Linked DNA regions of Homo sapiens: region 2 is linked to region 1. A link means that fine-mapping ties the variant in region 1 to the expression of a gene that starts in the linked region. Tissue or cell type: whole blood. Region 1 holds a variant in brackets; the other region holds the start of a gene. All regions are shown on one strand. Distances are from middle to middle.

Region 1 (8,104 bases):
AGCTTTTACACCATTAACGAAACTGAAAGTGCAGGGTAGAGTGCTCAGTGCCAGCCAAAATATAAGATACCCTAGTGATTTTACTGGGTGCTGATCTTTTAGCCTCTGTCTTGGCCCTTCAGAGTGTAGTTTGGCTCTTAAAGTGAGGCCACCTAGGTTGGAATTCTCACATTACCAATTTCAGTGTGACTGTGGCAAGTGGTAAGTGGCTTAACCTGTCTTTGCTTCACTTTCCTTATGTGCAAAATAGAGATAGAGTCACGCTGACCTTATAGCACTTTTTTTTTTTTTTGACAGAGTCTCACTCTGTTGCCCAGGCTGGAATGCAGTGGCTTGATCTCAGCTCACTACAACCTGCATCTCCTGGGCTTAAGTGATTCTCGTGCCTCAGCTTCCTGAGTAGCTGGGGCTATAGGCATGCACTACCATGCCTGGCTAATTTTTGTATATTTTTAGTAGAGATGGGGGTTTCACCATGTTGGCCAGGCTGGTCTCGAACTCCTGACCTCAGCTAATCTGCCTGCTTCGGCCTCCCAAAATGTTGGGTTTACAGGCGTGAGCCACTGTGCCTGGCCGAGGCTTCTTATAAGAATGAAAAGACACAATGATGTAAAGCACATAGTAGGTACTTAGCAGATATTAGCTATGAAGAATATTGTCATTATGGTAAATTATTACCACTTTTATTTAATAATTTCATCTTATAAATAAATCATCAGTTGGTCAGTTTTTTCTTTTTTTTAAAGACCCAACAACGGAGCCATCTGTATTCTATTGTAGAGATATAAAGCATTCTTCCGTGTAATGAGAATGTAACTCTCAATGAATCCTATTAGGAAGAAAAAAGCCTTCTGTATGGTTGGCATTCCTTCTTTCACCTTTGATGTGATTGTATCAATAAAAAGCAGAAACATAGGTGGGTGAATACATTTGTTGTTGCTCACATAACATTAAGAGCTGACTTGGTTTCTAGAGAACTATGAAAAATAATATTGAAATGAAGAGTTTTTTTTTTGTATTTGTAAATACAATGGAAATACCTTGTGTTTGAATTCTTCAGTTAAACCCTTAAAGAGTCTGTTTGATAACATTTATGGTCTGATTAGTAAGAGGGTACATCGTAGAGTGATTGGAAATTCAGAAAATCAAGGAAGAAAATTAAAATTCTGTCAAATCCCAAAGGCGTGGCTTTTAACATTTTGGCATATTTTCAATACATTTTATGTATTTAAAACAATTTGGGATTATATGCCTTTTCAACCTTATAGGCCTATATTTTTCATTTACTAACTTGCTCTGTCATTAAATGTTCTTTTACAATATGCCTTTTCAACCGTATAGGCCTGTATTTTTCATTTACTAACTTGCTCTGTCATTAAATGTTCTTTTACAACACGATTTTTTTTTTTCCAGATGGAGTTAGCGCTTGTCACCCAGGCTGGAGTGCAGTGGCGTGATCTTGGCTCACTGCAACCTCTGCCTTCCGGGTTCAAGCAATTCTCCTGCCTCAGTCTCCCAAGAAGCTGCGATTACAGGTGCTCACCACTATGCCTGGCTAATTTCTGCAGTTTTAGTAAAGACGGGGTTTCACCATGTTGGCCGGGCTGGTCTCGAACTCCTGGCCTCAGGTGATCCGCCCGCCTCAGCTGATCAGCCTCCTAAAGTGCTGGGATTACAGGCATGAGCCAGCGCACTGGGTCTTTTGCAACATGATTTTATTTTATTTTATTTTATTTTTTGGAGATAGAGTCTCACTCTGTCACCCAGGCTGGAGTGTAGTGGTGTGATCTTGGCTCACTGCAACCTCTCCCTCCTGGGTTCAAGCGATTCTCCTGCCTCAGCCTCCCGAGTAGCTGGGATTACAGGTGCGTGCCACCGCACCTGTCTGATTTTTGTATTTTTAGAAGACATGGCGTTTCATCATGTTGGCCAGGCTGGACTCGAACTCCTGACCTCAGGTGGTCTGCCCGCCTCAGCCTCCCAAAGTGCTGGGATTACAGGTGTGAGCCACTGTGCCCAGCCACAACATGATTTTAAAAATAACTGTGTGTTGTTCTAACATACGGATCTTCTATAACTGATTTAAACCCATTATATATTATGGAACATTTAGAGTTATTTCCAAGTTTTCGAGGTGGTGAACATCCATGAGGCTAAACCTATTTATGATGTATTCTATTTCCTCTGTAAGCAGTGTCCCCAACATTTCGTGTCATTCTTTTAATTATTTTCCAATGATATTTTGTTGTTCAATTTTTGATTTACTTATGCACTAGTGAGGGTGATCCTATTTACCCACTTTTCATATATTTAGTAGCAATTACTTGGTGTTTCTTTGTGAATTGTTTCTTAGGACCCTTATACATTTTGGTGAGAATGTTGGTCTTTTCTTGCAGTGGAAAGCTATTTATAACGGAGGGATATGAACTCTTTGTCAGTTATTGCAACAATTTTCTTGTTTCAGTTGTTTGACCATGGCCAGCTTAAAGAATATTTATTGGACAAATGGCCGACAATATTTGAAAGAAAAGCATACTTTATTCCCTAGTACATAGCTCTTTACATTTTTTCATGTTCTTCTTAGTCATCTCTGTGTAAATAGTAGTCATATAATTTAGAGATTACTACATGAAAAGCATAGGTAGAGTTCAGTATTCTGACTTAAGAGTCATGTGTCTCATTCTGTTAAAGCTCTGCTTAAGAAGTGGAGTACAGTTCAAAAACCCCATTCCCAAGAAGTCAAATTGTTTAAAATAAATCACCACTTATGTGTGCTTGGGTCTGTTTCCCCCTCTGACCCCTTACTTGGATTTAAAATGATAAAATTAATAATTACTGTCTCTCCAAGAATTGTGTTGGTCATCAAGACACCTAAGAAATTTTATGACCCCATAGGTACATGTCATCTGTGAACACCTGAAACTGTCCACATATTTAAGACCTACCCTACCCTACCAATTTGCCTTTCCCTCTGCCATCTTGAGAGGAAGCAATACTAAAGGACCTCTTCTCTGACCCCCACCTTTTCCCTGTCTCCTTGGCAGCTGCTTCTTAAGATCTTCCTGGGTGCTCTCCTCTCCTGCCTTTGTTCAGCACACTTACCAAGGCCCCCCATGTGGTCAGGGCTGCCAGGCAGTTCTCTCCAACCACCCAGGCCACACTGGAGAAAATCAGTAATGTGCGTCTTCTCTGGGTCTGGCATTCAATTGTTACACCACAGATATTTAAGTACCCCTTATGTTCAAGGCCATACGGCTACAAAACTTAACAAAATAGGGGTTTGACCTGAAAGAGGCAAATACCCTTGGGGGACACAGACAAGTAGGCAGGCAATGGCTGTCTCAGGGACAAATATTTCAAGGCTTATTTTATAGTGTTTTAAGAAAGGAGGGGGACAGGAGAGACAGTGGTTGTGTCTCTGTGTCCTAGCCACTTGCATACTGAGGCCTTCACCTGCCCTCCCTGTTCCATCTGCTAAGAGAGTGGAAGTACTATCAGCTGAGTTTTTACCAATACGTGATGTGGTACAGTGGTCAAGAGCAGAAACTAGAAATTGGTCAGATCTGGGGTCAGAAATGGGAAATGCCATCAGCAGATTTTTAGGCAAGTGACTTGAACCTCTGAGCCTCAGTTTCCTCATCTGAACAGTGGGGACAATGCCTTCCTGTGGGCTGTGATGATGGGTAAATGAGATTAATAATAATGCCAGTTACAGGGATAGCACTCACTACCTGCCAGGTTTATGTTGTCTCATGCATGGAAGCAGCCTCCTCCAGATCATTAATGCTGAATAAATGGAATTGGTCTGGCCACCCTTGAGAACAGAAAAGAACTGACAAAGAAATAGTCTTGTCAGACACTCTGCCTGGTTTCCTGGTGGTGAGAGGTGTTGCCAAGATGTGCCCTTTGAAGGTGGGTGGGGCCATAGTGAGCGAACTCCTTCTCCAGATTTCAGCAATGCAGACCGGAAGGTGAACATGCCCTGCACGGGTCTGGCAGCAAGCGTCT[C/A]CCCCGTCTCCTCACAGGATGGACCTGACAGCTTACGCTGAGCTGCTGAAAGAATCCGGCAACCAGGTTCTTAAGAATGGGAACTTCTCTTTGGCCATCAGAAAGTACGATGAAGCCATCCAGATTCTCCTGCAGTTATACCAGTGGGGGTAAGTGTTTGCATTTTCACCTCATCTTTTCTTTTTCAGTACATGGGACTCTGTTCCTTATGATTTCTTTTCATTTCTTATCATTCCACCCTGTTTCTGTTTTCTTTATTGCTCACTTCCTATTTATCTTCTCTGCATTGTCAGCTTAGAAGTGAACAGGGATTGTGTAAGAAGGGAAATAGAAAGTGAAACATAGAGGACTGTTGATAAACATAACAAAACTTCCCGTTCTGGCTGGCTAGGGGTCAGATTTAATGGGATGGCTGAAGTCTTCGAACAAACCTCTTCGTTGTCATTCATTTCATCTTCTTTATTATCTATGCCATTTACTCCGTGGCCACAGCGCACACCCCGCCGGGCACTAAGGTTCACTTTCTCTTTCCTTGCCCCTTCAGCTTCTTACAGACCTGTTCTCAAACATTGTAGTATCACAACATGCTTAAACATTGCTGAGGACCCTAAAGAGCTTCTTCTGTTTATGTAGGCTGTAGCTGTCAATACAGTATGGTAGAACTTAAAACTGATAAAAAAATAAAATATGTATTTATTTAAAAATATTGGCCGGGTGCGGTGGCTCATGCCTGTAATCCCAGCACTTTGGGAGGCCGAGGTGGGCAGATCACGAGGTCAGGAGATCGAGACCATCCTGGCTAACAGGGTGAAACCCCATCTCTATTAAAAATACAACAGATTAGCCGGGTGTGGTGGTGGGCACCTGTAGTCCCAGCTACTCCGGAGGGTGAGGCAGGAGAATAGCGTGAACCCGGGAGGTGGAGCTTGCAGTGAGCCGAGATTACGCCACTGCACTCCATCCTGGGCGACAGAGCCAGACTCCGTCTCAAAAAAAAAAAAAAAAAAAAAAATCAATAAATTTGCTGGGTAGAGTGGCTCAAACCTGTAATCCCAGCACTTTGGGAGGCCGAGGCGGTCAGATCACCTGACTTCAGGAGTTCAAGACCAGCCTGGCCAACATGGTGAAACCCCATCTCTACTAAAAATACAAAATTAGCTGGGCGTAGTGGCGCACGCCTGTAATCCCAGCTACTTGGGAGGCTGAGGCAGGAGAATCGCTTGATCGTGGGAGGCAGATGTTACAGCGAGCCGAGATCGTGCCATTGAACTCTGGCCTCGGTGACAAGAGTGAAACTCTGTCTCAAAAATAAATAAATAAATATATCAGTAAATCTATTACATGTTGTATTTTTAAAGTATATTTTCCAAAACAAAAACTTGTACATTTTTGTAAATCTCCTTCTTAATGTCTTGTCTCCACAGAAGACAGCTGGCTTCTTACATCTGTATTCAGTCTGTTGCAATATCACATGTCATATGGCTTCTGGAAAACTCCCTGTGTGAGTGTGAGGGAATGAGTATGAACAAGGCACATTATGTCTTAATTATTGTATTAGTTTCCTGTTGCTGCTGTAGCAAGTTACCACCAATTTAGGGCTTAAAGCAATACAAATTTTTTCTCTTGCAATTCTGAAGATCAGAAGTTCTAAATGAGTCTAATGGGGCTAAAATCAAGGTGTTAGCAGGGCTGGTTCTTTGTGGAGGCTCTGAGGGGGAGAAGGCACTTCCTTGCCTTTCTCAGCTTTGAGTGGCGGTGTGTATTCTTTGGCTTGTGGCTCCTTCCTTTATCTTCAAAGCTTATCATTCCAATCTCTGCTTCTGTCATCACCTTGCCTTCTCCTCAGCTGTGCTTCTGTCTCCCTCTGTCTCTCTCGATCATAGGGACCCTTGTGATTTTATCATAATTCAGGATAATCTCCTATTCCTAAAATCCTTAAATTGATCACATCTGCTACATCATTTGTTAATCACAAAAGTTTGTCTTTTTCCATAAAAAGAACAGTATTTGGGGGCCATTATTCAGCTTACCACAACTGTGAAAGTATTTTCACCTTGTGGATCACCTGCAGTGGCCTTGAGGGTCCCCAGAAGTTCCCAGATCATCCTTTTGGAACAGCTGCAGTAGAGCGAGCAGATGTTGGCATCTGTAGGGTGCACACAACCTAAACTTGTGCTAGGAAATGGCACCAAATTAAATTACTGAAACACGGCTCCACCTCCCCCTCCCATCTCCTTGATGTCTACACTCTAGTTGAGGTTGAGTTGAGTGTAATTAGCTTGTGTCTGTAGTTTCTGCAGTTCTGCCTTGTCCTGGTACATATCAGAATTGTGTCAGAGCTGGGTCTAGAGATCCTCGATCAAGGCAAACATTCAGCTTTCTTAGAAAGAGGTAGTATTGTGTAGTGTTTATGGTTGTAGACTGACCCCACACTATGTGTGTTCAAAGCTCAGCTCCACCACTTACTGTGTGACCCCTACTGGGACTTCTGCCTGGACCCTCATGTTGCCTTTTGTGGGACCTTCCTGACACTGTTCCCCTTGCCCATCACCTGCTGCTGGCCTTCCTGCCACAGCTAGCTAACACTGAGACTCAGGTGCATGTGATTTACAGCGTACTTGCAGGAGAAAGGGGACTGAGGGAGGCAGGATGGCACAAGGAAGGCTCTAAGCAGGGATGGTGTCTAAACCAAGCAAGATTTGCCTGATCCCATAGGCAGCTCTGGAGCATGAATCATACTGCAGAGCTGGTTCCATCTTGAGGCAAGGAGGTTAACCTTTTGATTCTCATATCAGTCAGTCACTGGTTTTAGGCTGTCTGGCTCCCGGCAGTCATCCTAGGGAGTGGGCTATATTAGTCTGCTTGCGCTACCATAACAAAATAGCACAGACTGGGTGGCTTAAACAACAGAAATTTATTTTTCAAAGTTCTACAGGCTGGGAAGTCCAAGATCAAGCTGCCCCCTGTGAGGGCTGTCTTCCTGGCTTGTAGATGGTTGCCTTCTCACTGTGTTACGTGCAAAGAGGAGAGAGCAAGCTCTCCAGCGTCTCTTCTTATTCCATTGTGAGGACTCCACCCTCATGACCTCAGCTAAACATAATTACCTCCCAATGGTTCCATGTTCAAATATTGTCACATTGAGGGGTAGGGCTTCAACCCAGGGATTTTTTTTTTTTTTTTTGAGACAGAGTCTTGCTCTGTCTCCCAGGCTAGAGTGCAACGGCACGATCTCGGCTCACTGCAAGCTCCGCCGCCTCCCGGGTTCACGCCATTCTCCTGCCTCAGCCTCCCGAGTAGCTGGGACTACAGGCACCTGCCACCACGCCCGGCTAATTTTTTGTATTTTTAGTAGAGATGGGGTTTCACCGTGTTAGCCGGGATGGTCTCGATCTCCTGACCTCGTGATCCGCCCGCTCGGCCTCCTAAAGTGCTGGGATTACAGGCATGAGCCACTGTGCCCGGCCTACCCAGGGATTTTTTTTTTTTTGGCAGTTGGGGATGGGGGAAGTTCAGTCCCTAGTATGGGTGTAACTTCCTGGGGAGAGGGTAGCTCTCATTAGGCTGAGGATAAATCTCTGGAGAACAGGGTGCTGAGAACCTCTAGCTGCAGCCAACAGACATTGCAGCTGGGAATGGCTGCACTGGCCAGAGTGTCTGGGATGGACACCATGGCATCTCTTACACTTGCGGTCACTGCTCCCTTGCTGATCCCTCACTGCCTGACCCCACTGCCTCCTGTGTGCTTCTGGGGCCTCATCCCTTCACCTAGAGGGAATGTTGGGCCATGAAAGAAGCCAGACACAAAACATCGAGGGTGGGGACAGTAATGGAGGTGATTTTTCCTTTGTTTATTAATATTTTTGTGCTTGTCTGCATTATCTACAGTGATTTTTGTATTATTCTACAGTGATTTGTATTATTTTTACGATTAAGATTTTTTTTTTTCTTTTTTTGAGACGGAGTCTTGCTGTGTTGCCAGGCTGGAGTGCAGTGGTGCGATCTTGGCTCACTGAAATCTCCTCCTCCTGGGTTCAAACGATTCTCCTGCCTCAGCCTGCCATGTAGCTGGGACTACAGGTGCACCCCACCACACCCA
Region 2 (8,091 bases), 36 kb before region 1:
CAAAACAAAAACAAAAACAAAAACAAAAACAAAACAAAAAAAAAGATGGAAAACAGGAGAGAAGTGATTTGAAAATTAAGCAACTGTATCACAGAGATCAGTCCTGGAAGTTCAATATCCTGAATAATAGGATTAAAAAGAGAGAGGGAGAGAAAGAAAATGGAAAAAAAAAATCAATAAAATAATTCAAGATATTTTCCCAGACTGAAGAGCTTGAGTGTTGAGACTGAAATAACCCACGCAGTACCCAGTGGAATCAATGAATGGGCCCACATCAAAGCAGATCATTGTGTAATTTCAAAACACTGGGGAGGAAAAGAAGATTCTTCATGCTTCCAGAGATTTAAAAAAGAAGAGGTCCTATAAAAAGATTGATGACTGATGCTTGAACCCAGGAGGCAGAGGTTGTAGTGAACTGAGACTGCACCATTGCACTCCAGCCTGGGTGACAGAGCGAGACTCTGTCTCTAAATAAATAGATAAGATTGATGATTGAATGTTTTCAGAATTCCCAACAGCAGTACTGGAAGCTAGAAGTCACTGAAGTAATAGCTTCAGAATTCTGAAGGAAAATGATTTCTATTTTTTTTTTGTTGAGACAAAGTCTCCCTCTGTTGCTGAGGCTGGAGTGCAGTGGCATGATCTTGGCTCACTGCAGCCTCCACCTCCTGGGTTCAAGTGATTCTCCTGCCTCAGCCTCCGGAGTAGCTGAGATTACAAGTGCCCACCACCACGACTGGCTAATTTTTGTATTTTTGGTAGAGACAGGTTTTCACCATGTTGGCCAAGCTGGTCTTGAACTCCTGACCTCAGGTGATCTGCCTGTCTCAGCTTCCCAAAGTGCTGGGATTACAGGTGTGAGCCACCACGCCCGGTAGAAAATGATTTCTAGCTGATAATTTTATACCCAGCCAAACTATATTAAGGATAAAGGTTTTCAGACAAGCACAGTCTCAAAAATTTTACCTGATCATGCATAAAACTGAGGGGAAAAAAGCCCCAACAACAAGAAGTAGCAATACAAACGTTATTTAGAGACATGAGCATAGGCATCAAAATAATCAGCTGAAAGATGTAAAAGTGGTTGTTTCTAGGGAAGAAGTCAGGTGGAAGGGAAAAAGGGGCCTGCTCTTTTTATTTATTTATTTTTTATTTTATTTTTATGATTGTTTATTGAGATGGAGTCTCGCTCTGTTACCCAGGCTGGAGTGCAGTGGCATGATCTCGGCTCACTGCAACCTCCACCTCCCAGGTTCAAGCGATTCTCCTGCCTCAGTCTCCAGAGTAGCTGGGATTACAGGCATGCGCCACCATGCCCAGCTAATTTTTGTATTTTTAGTAGAAATGGGGTTTTACCATGGTGGTCAGGCTGGTCTTGAACTCCTGACTCAGGGGATCTGCTTACCTGGGACTCCCAAAATACTGGGATTACAGGCATGAGCCACCACGCCTGGCTGAGGCCTGCTCTTTTAACTGTGAATGTATAACTGATAAAAATATAAAAATAGAAGACAGAGAAGAAACAGTTTTAAAAAGAAAGATAACATACTGACGTGACTTTTGAGGATTATGGTGAAGATATCCAAAGAAGATGTATGACAACAAGATTTTGAGATGCTTATGAAAACTAGTGAAAGAGTGGTCAAAGTGTAAACGGACTTTTTGGTTTTTTTAAATCCTCCTCTCTTCACCAATCCCTTGGCTTGCTCTCTTTGATGTAAGAACCTGGCTAGGCTTTCTGGAAGTAGACTCCTTGAAGTTGGCAAAAATAACAACAACAACAACAACAAAACAAAATAACCCCCCAAAACAAAAAGAAAAACAAAAAACCCCAAAACCAAAAATATCTCCGAAACCAAAAAATACCCCGCAACCAAAAAACCCCAAACCAAAACCAAACCAAACCAAAACCCAAACTGAACAAACCCAAAAATCACCAACAGAAAGAGGTATGCTAGAAGAGGTGGCATGTGCTTTCCTAAATATAGAATTGGGGGATGTTGGGAAAAGTATTGGAGGAAGGATATGGAAAGTATCCTAAAAGTGAAAGGACCAATGATGTCTGGGAAATAGCAAGTAGTCCAACTATTTGGTGGCTAGCAGTGATTCTCAAACTTTGCAGCATGTTATAGTCTTTTAAAAATCCTGATGTGGCTGGGTGTGGTGGCTTGCACCTATAATTCCAGCACTTGGGGAAGCCTAAGTGGGTGGATCACTTGAGGTCATGGGTTTGAGACCAGCCTGTCTAACATGGTGAAACCCCGCCTCTACTAAAAATCTAAAAAATTCAGCCGGGCAAGGCGGCGGGCACCTGTAATCCCAGTTACTCAGGAGGCTGAGGCAGGAGAATCACCTGAACAACAGAGTGAGACTGTCTCAAAACAAAAACAAAAACAAAAATTCCTGACGCCCATGTCAATTAGACAATTTGGGAGTAAAAGCCAAACATACGCATATTTTTGGGTTTTTTTTTTTTTTTTTGTATTTTTAGTAGAGATGGGGTTTCTCCATGTTGGTCTGGCTGGTCTCAAACTCCCGACCTCAGGTGATCCGCCTGCCTCAGGCTTCCAAAGTGCTGGGATTACGGGTGTGAGCCACCCGCCCGGCCTTGTTTTTGTTTTTAAGCTCCCCAGGTGATTCTATTGTGTAACTAAGGTTGGGAAGCACTGCAGTATAGAGTTTGCATGAGGAAGCTAAGATTGGAAATGTGGGGCAAGATTGTGAAGAAGAATCTCAAATGCCCGGGTACCTAACCTGATCTCTAGGAGACAATGGAGTGCCACTGATGGCTTTTGAACTGTACGTGATTCATCCTGATGTTTGGGGAAGATCAATGCACAGAAATCTCTGTGAGATTCTAGAAGCAAGGAGACCACTAGCTAGACTGAGACTAGTTCACAACGCAGAATGACCAGTGGAGAGAAGTATACTGTGTGCCTTAGGTGTGTCCACGTGTTACCAAAGCCTCTCTGTTTCGCTGAAATGTGTGGTCCCCCTCACTAAAGCTCTGGTGGTGTCCTCCCTGCCACCAGGCAGCCTGGTGTGGTGGTCCCCCAGAAGGATGGGCGAACCACCGGGATGCAGTGTAGGCCGAACCTTGCCCCAGGGGAGGGCGGCGGGCTTAGCTCTCTGATTGGGTGGATTCTCTGGTGTGTAGGAAAGTACTCCCAGGCCCAGAGAAGCTGTGAAGACCAAACCGGCTCCCTAGGCCGAGAACCGCTGGGGAGGTAGCAGCCAGAGGTGGTCCTCTCCGACCCACTACTCTGTCGATCATCACTGGGGAGGTGGAAAGACAAGGCAAGATCCTCATTTTGTTGCCTGCTCAGGCCTGTGCGCACTTACTCTCCATGGACACGACGGTGAGCGTGGAGCAGCCCGCGGTCTCGCTGCCCCCTTCACTCCCGGACCCCCAGCCTCCCCAGAGTGGAGGGGCAAGCACACAGTAAGTACTTGATATTCGCCCGACTCCTGAGCTCCTCATCTGTAGGAGCTAGGGGGCTTGTTCTCCGTACGTCCTTTGTTGGAGGGAGGAACGAGGGAAGGAGAAAACCCACGCTGAGGCCGTTGGCCGATCACTTTCTTTACCTCCCGGACAACATTGATGGGCCCCACTAAGGAAAGCCGAATTCTCGCATGCCCGAGGAGTGTCGGAGGTGGTTGTGCGCCTAGTCCCTCCTGGTAAAGGGTTCGAAGCACTCGTTTATTCAAAGGCGGCCGAGAGCCATACCATTTGCTTGCATGACGGGAGACACCGAAACGCCCCTTTTGAACGCGATGACAAACACCTCCTCCCACTCAGCAGCGACGTGCACGTGACAGTTTTTGGGCTCTCGCAACTACGTGGAAACTTGGAATAGGTCTGCGGCTGCACACCGCCCGGACGCCGGGGTTCCTGCGTCCCCCGCCCCCTCTGATCGCGGCTGGGTAGCCGAGCCGCAGGCAGCTGGGGGCCCCCGAACGCCGCCTCTGCATCGCGCCGCCCCTGCCCCGGGCTCCGGTAGCTTTCGGGCTTCCGCACTGCCCGCCGCGCCCTGCCCACAGGGAAGCGCTTCCCCAGGCGGCGGCGGTCCTGGTGCGGACCCTCCGGCCGCAGCCATGTGGGACCCGCGGGCAGCTAGGTGCGTAGCGGCGCGGGAAGCACTGGGGCATCTCTGGCCTTCCGGGCCCGCCACCCTTCCTGGCGGGAGGCGGCCGCGCGCGGGGACTGGCGACCCTGAGGTAGCGGCCGAACGGGCCCGCCCGGCCATCCCTGTGGGGCCCACAGCCATCTAGGTGCAGACCCGAGCCAGTTGCGCGGGGTCGGTCGCGGGGGACGGCTTCGGCCTTTTCGGTCCGGAGGGACCAGGGCACGCGCTGCGACAGGACTGCGGCGGCGCGCGGCCTGCCTAGCTCCCACCCCGGCATCGAAGCCGCAGCTCTCGGGCCCACCTCCGCATCCTCAGGGGTTCCCGGGGGCTGCCGACAGGTTCCTGACCAGCGAGCGCGCCCCCGGGGCAAGCATTCTTGGCGGGCAGAAACCTGGGAGCGGAGCACAGCGGTGCAAGGGAACCGTGCCAGGCGGGAAGGGCGGAATTTGCGGGGAACTTGGAGCGCGCTGGCCTCTTCCCGGCAGTAGGAGGCCTTCTTCCCTGCCCGCCCGATTGAGGGCTGCTGGGCTGGCTCAAACTGGACTGCACGGTCCATCAGCCTGGGCTCACCGAGTCTAGGGGGAAGGTAGTAGTAGGGACCCAAGGCTGGGAAGCGGAGCCCTTAGAAGCCCTTGCTTCTGCCTCGGAGCGTTTCCGAACCGGAGCTCGGAGTCTGTTGCCTGGGAGGCGCGTTGCGTTTCCTCCCAACTCCCTGTCTCCGTCCCGCGGGGAGCCCTGTGCACTTGCAACCCGGCTGAGATAGAGCCCATCTTTGAGGTGCAGCTCAAGCCACCTTTTCTCCCAGATCGGGGTGTTTCTGGGCAGTTGAAAGCTTTGGTGCTTCCTAGGAAAATTTTTATGGAAGTGTGCAATTTGGAAAATAAAAGAAAAAAAAATTTAAGAAGCAGAAAGAGAATGGGGCTCTGAGGTCTCTAGTTCCCCTATCTGCTCCAACCCAGTTGCTGCTGGCTCAGTTAGTCCTTATGCGGGAAGGAATAGCTGGGATTAAAGCCTTGTGTTCCCAGCGTAGGTATGCGCTCCTGCTCCCTCGTGCTGAGCGTTTTGGGTTCCAGGATCCTTTTTGATATAAGGCTGTTATCCGGATGGCATCCTGTTTGGTCCTTTATAGAAAAAAAAAAAAAGTACTACGGTGTGTGTGTGTTGGAGGGCGGGGACGGTGGTCAGGAGTTTGTTTCAACTGTTTTCCAGGCAGGTCTGTTTTGTAGGATTGCAGGATAGGTGCTTGAGTTCATATGCTCTTTGTTGGCTTTTGCATCCTCTGCGGGGGGTGGGGGGGTGGGTAGAGGTGGGATAGGTGTGTGTGGCATTCACTCCCAGAGTCGCATCCCACTGCCACTGGCCTATGTATGGGTTTCTAGGTCTTTTTTCGATCAAGACCCACACCCACCCACCTATATGTATATAATGTATATATGCATAATATGTGTGTAATATTATATATACATATATACGCACACACACATACACATGTAAAATTGCAGCAAGAGCTTCATGGTATAGTTATTCTTTCTACAGGGTGAGGCACAATGATATTTTCCATTCTATTCCCTCCCCCCACCCCCCACCAGAGGGATTCTCGCTCTGTCACCCAGGCTGGAGTGCAATGAGGCGATCTCGGCTCACTGCAGCCTCCGCCTCCTGGGTTCAAGCGATTCTCCTGCCGCAGCCTCCGAAATAGCTGGGATTACGGGGGGCCGGGGGTGGGGCGCCACCAAGCCTGACTAATTTTTGTATTTTTAGTGGAGACGGTGTTTCGCCATGTTGGCCATGCTGGTCTCAAACTCCTGATCTCAAGTGATCCACCCGCTTCTGCCTGCCAGAGTGCTGGGATTACACGCCAGAGCCACCACGCCGGCCCATTCTATGTTTTTTTTTTTTTTTTAAAGCGGGTCATAAATTGTTAACTTCACTTTATGACCGACTGACCAGCTTTATGGGGCAACTGCAGGTTCTGTTTCCGCCGCTCTCCCAGAGTATGAGGAGACCGTCAGCATTTCACAGGGGAGTTGACTTTGGAAGTGAGGACTTGGTGTAGGAGTGATGAAGTAGACTGAAATTCATACTTGAGTGATAGAATACTGTAGGACATGGCTGTGTGGTTCAAGCCAGTACCATCTACAAAGACAGACCGCAGATGCTTCTGGTTACTTTGGTTCTGGCTATGTGTCCACAGAGAGCTGGCCTCCTGCATGGATCCCAGTGGGGCCTGGTGTAAATGCTAGGGAGGTAGGGGCATAATAGCTCCTGTTCTTTTTTTTTTTTTTTTTTTTTTTTGAGGAAGAAGAAGGGAAGATGCTGCAACCCTACTGCAGCCTTGGATTCATAGTTTTCTAAAAGGATTCTTTGGGTCTTGTCTCAGAATTTCACAGCTGCAATCAAGAGCTGGACCACGATCATTTTATAGATGAAGAAATTAAGGCCCAGAAAGGCCATCACTTGTTAGTCATTACCAACGAGTTAGTGTTAGATCTGGGATTAGACAACTTATCTCTTGACTTCCCAGTCCATGGCTCTCAGGAACCAAATAGAGACTGGCCTTGTGGAAATATTAAACTTCTATTTGCTGGTTGCTTCTGTTTTCCTGAAGTTACTACCAAAGACCCATTTCTATAGTATATGCCCTCATTATTTTATCTTTGCTTTTGGGGATGAAGATTATTTTAGCAGCCAAGTAGAGCCTGCAGTCCTCCTGTTTGGGGAAGGTAAAGTGATCTGAAGAGGAGGATTTTAAGAACTGAAGTGGAGGTTGAGGTGTGGGCCTCTCTGGCCATTATCAAGTATGTGGTGTTGGTTTTCTTGACCTTAAGGAATGAACCCTCCACTGCATTTCCAGATGGGGAGGTGGGGCTGACATGTCAGTGCTTTGCCCTCAGAGTGACCGCAGGCTCATTGCTTTTAAAACAAATTTCCTTGGAGTGCTGCCTGAGGTTCCCAAGGCCAAAAGCACCCTTGTTAAGAAATCTTTACAGGAAAGAAAGACTTGGGGCAGCAAAGATGACACTGTAACAGTTACAGCAAAGACTGATAGTCGGGCTGGTTACAGCGATGGGGAGAATGGTTAAGTTTAACCTTTAAAAAAGAAAGTATTGAGCCAGATAAACAGGCATCTTTGGAACACAAAAATGTCACAGTGCCCAGCCAAGAGTGATTACTCCTTTGGTCACTCCTTAGGTTAGCAAGGTTCATTCTGCCAGAGCAGACATTTTTCTTGGTCTAAAATTGCATAAGTATTGCCTTGTTTGTTTTTGTTGAAAATCTGGAAATGTGAATGACCTTTGCCTAAGATACCCTGGACTCCGTTTACCTGAATCAATTCCATCTTTTGCTTAGATGCTGAGCCTCACAGTACCTGCCCTGTGCTCACCATAGCATGCTTGTGTGAGCTCCTGTGAGCCTGGTGGGCTGGTGGGACTCCCTGTGTGTCTTTTGGAGCCAAGCCAACTCTGGGTTTAGCTATATCTGTCTTTGAAGTTCCAGCAACATTTTGATTGGGATTTTTTATTTTTTAAGCACTGGGTCCTCCTAGCACTTGGAAAGAGGGCAGTATTCCCAGTCCGAAAAATCAGTGATGGATTTTGGAGGAAACCAGGCCAGTAGTGCACAACACATAAAATATAGAGAATTATAGCACTATATTGGGTGATCTTCATTCACTGGGGCAAGAATGCTCAGACAGCAGCCTTGACATTGGATGGGCTCATCCTTCATGTTCAGCTGTGGCCACCAGGGCAATCATTTTTGCTCACCCTTAGACTAGCTCATCTTCTGCCCATGAAGGTCCACTCTACCTGGAGGCTCAATCACTGATGACTTCTAGGGACTCATTGGCCTGAACTCATTGGCCAGGTACTAAGGCCATCTATAATCTGGCCCCCAGACTGTTTCTCTAATATGGTCTTTCTTCTTGCCTTTTCTCACCCCTTCTTGCTTTTTGTTTTTCAAG

Evidence for each region. PIP is the estimated chance that this variant, and not a neighbour inherited with it, causes the effect.
Region 2: it holds the start of TRANK1, and the variant in region 1 is fine-mapped to the expression of TRANK1 in whole blood (TOPMed, PIP above 0.99).

The regions. Positions count from the first base shown.
Region 1 is chr3:36,904,376-36,912,479 of GRCh38, reverse strand. It overlaps TRANK1 (tetratricopeptide repeat and ankyrin repeat containing 1), which reads left to right. Exons shown (of 24, transcript NM_001329998.2): 2 at 4,026-4,157. Among named protein-coding and RNA genes, the nearest start is that of TRANK1, 37 kb to the left of the region's middle. RefSeq lists a silencer at 1,699-1,867 and enhancers at 4,037-4,186, 4,197-4,516, 4,537-4,586. The variant C/A (reference allele first, on the strand shown) is at 4,009.
Region 2 is chr3:36,940,814-36,948,904 of GRCh38, reverse strand. It overlaps TRANK1 (tetratricopeptide repeat and ankyrin repeat containing 1), which reads left to right and starts at 3,851. Exons shown (of 24, transcript NM_001329998.2): 1 at 3,851-4,118. The coding sequence starts at 4,096. RefSeq lists an enhancer at 3,684-3,753 and a silencer at 3,984-4,203.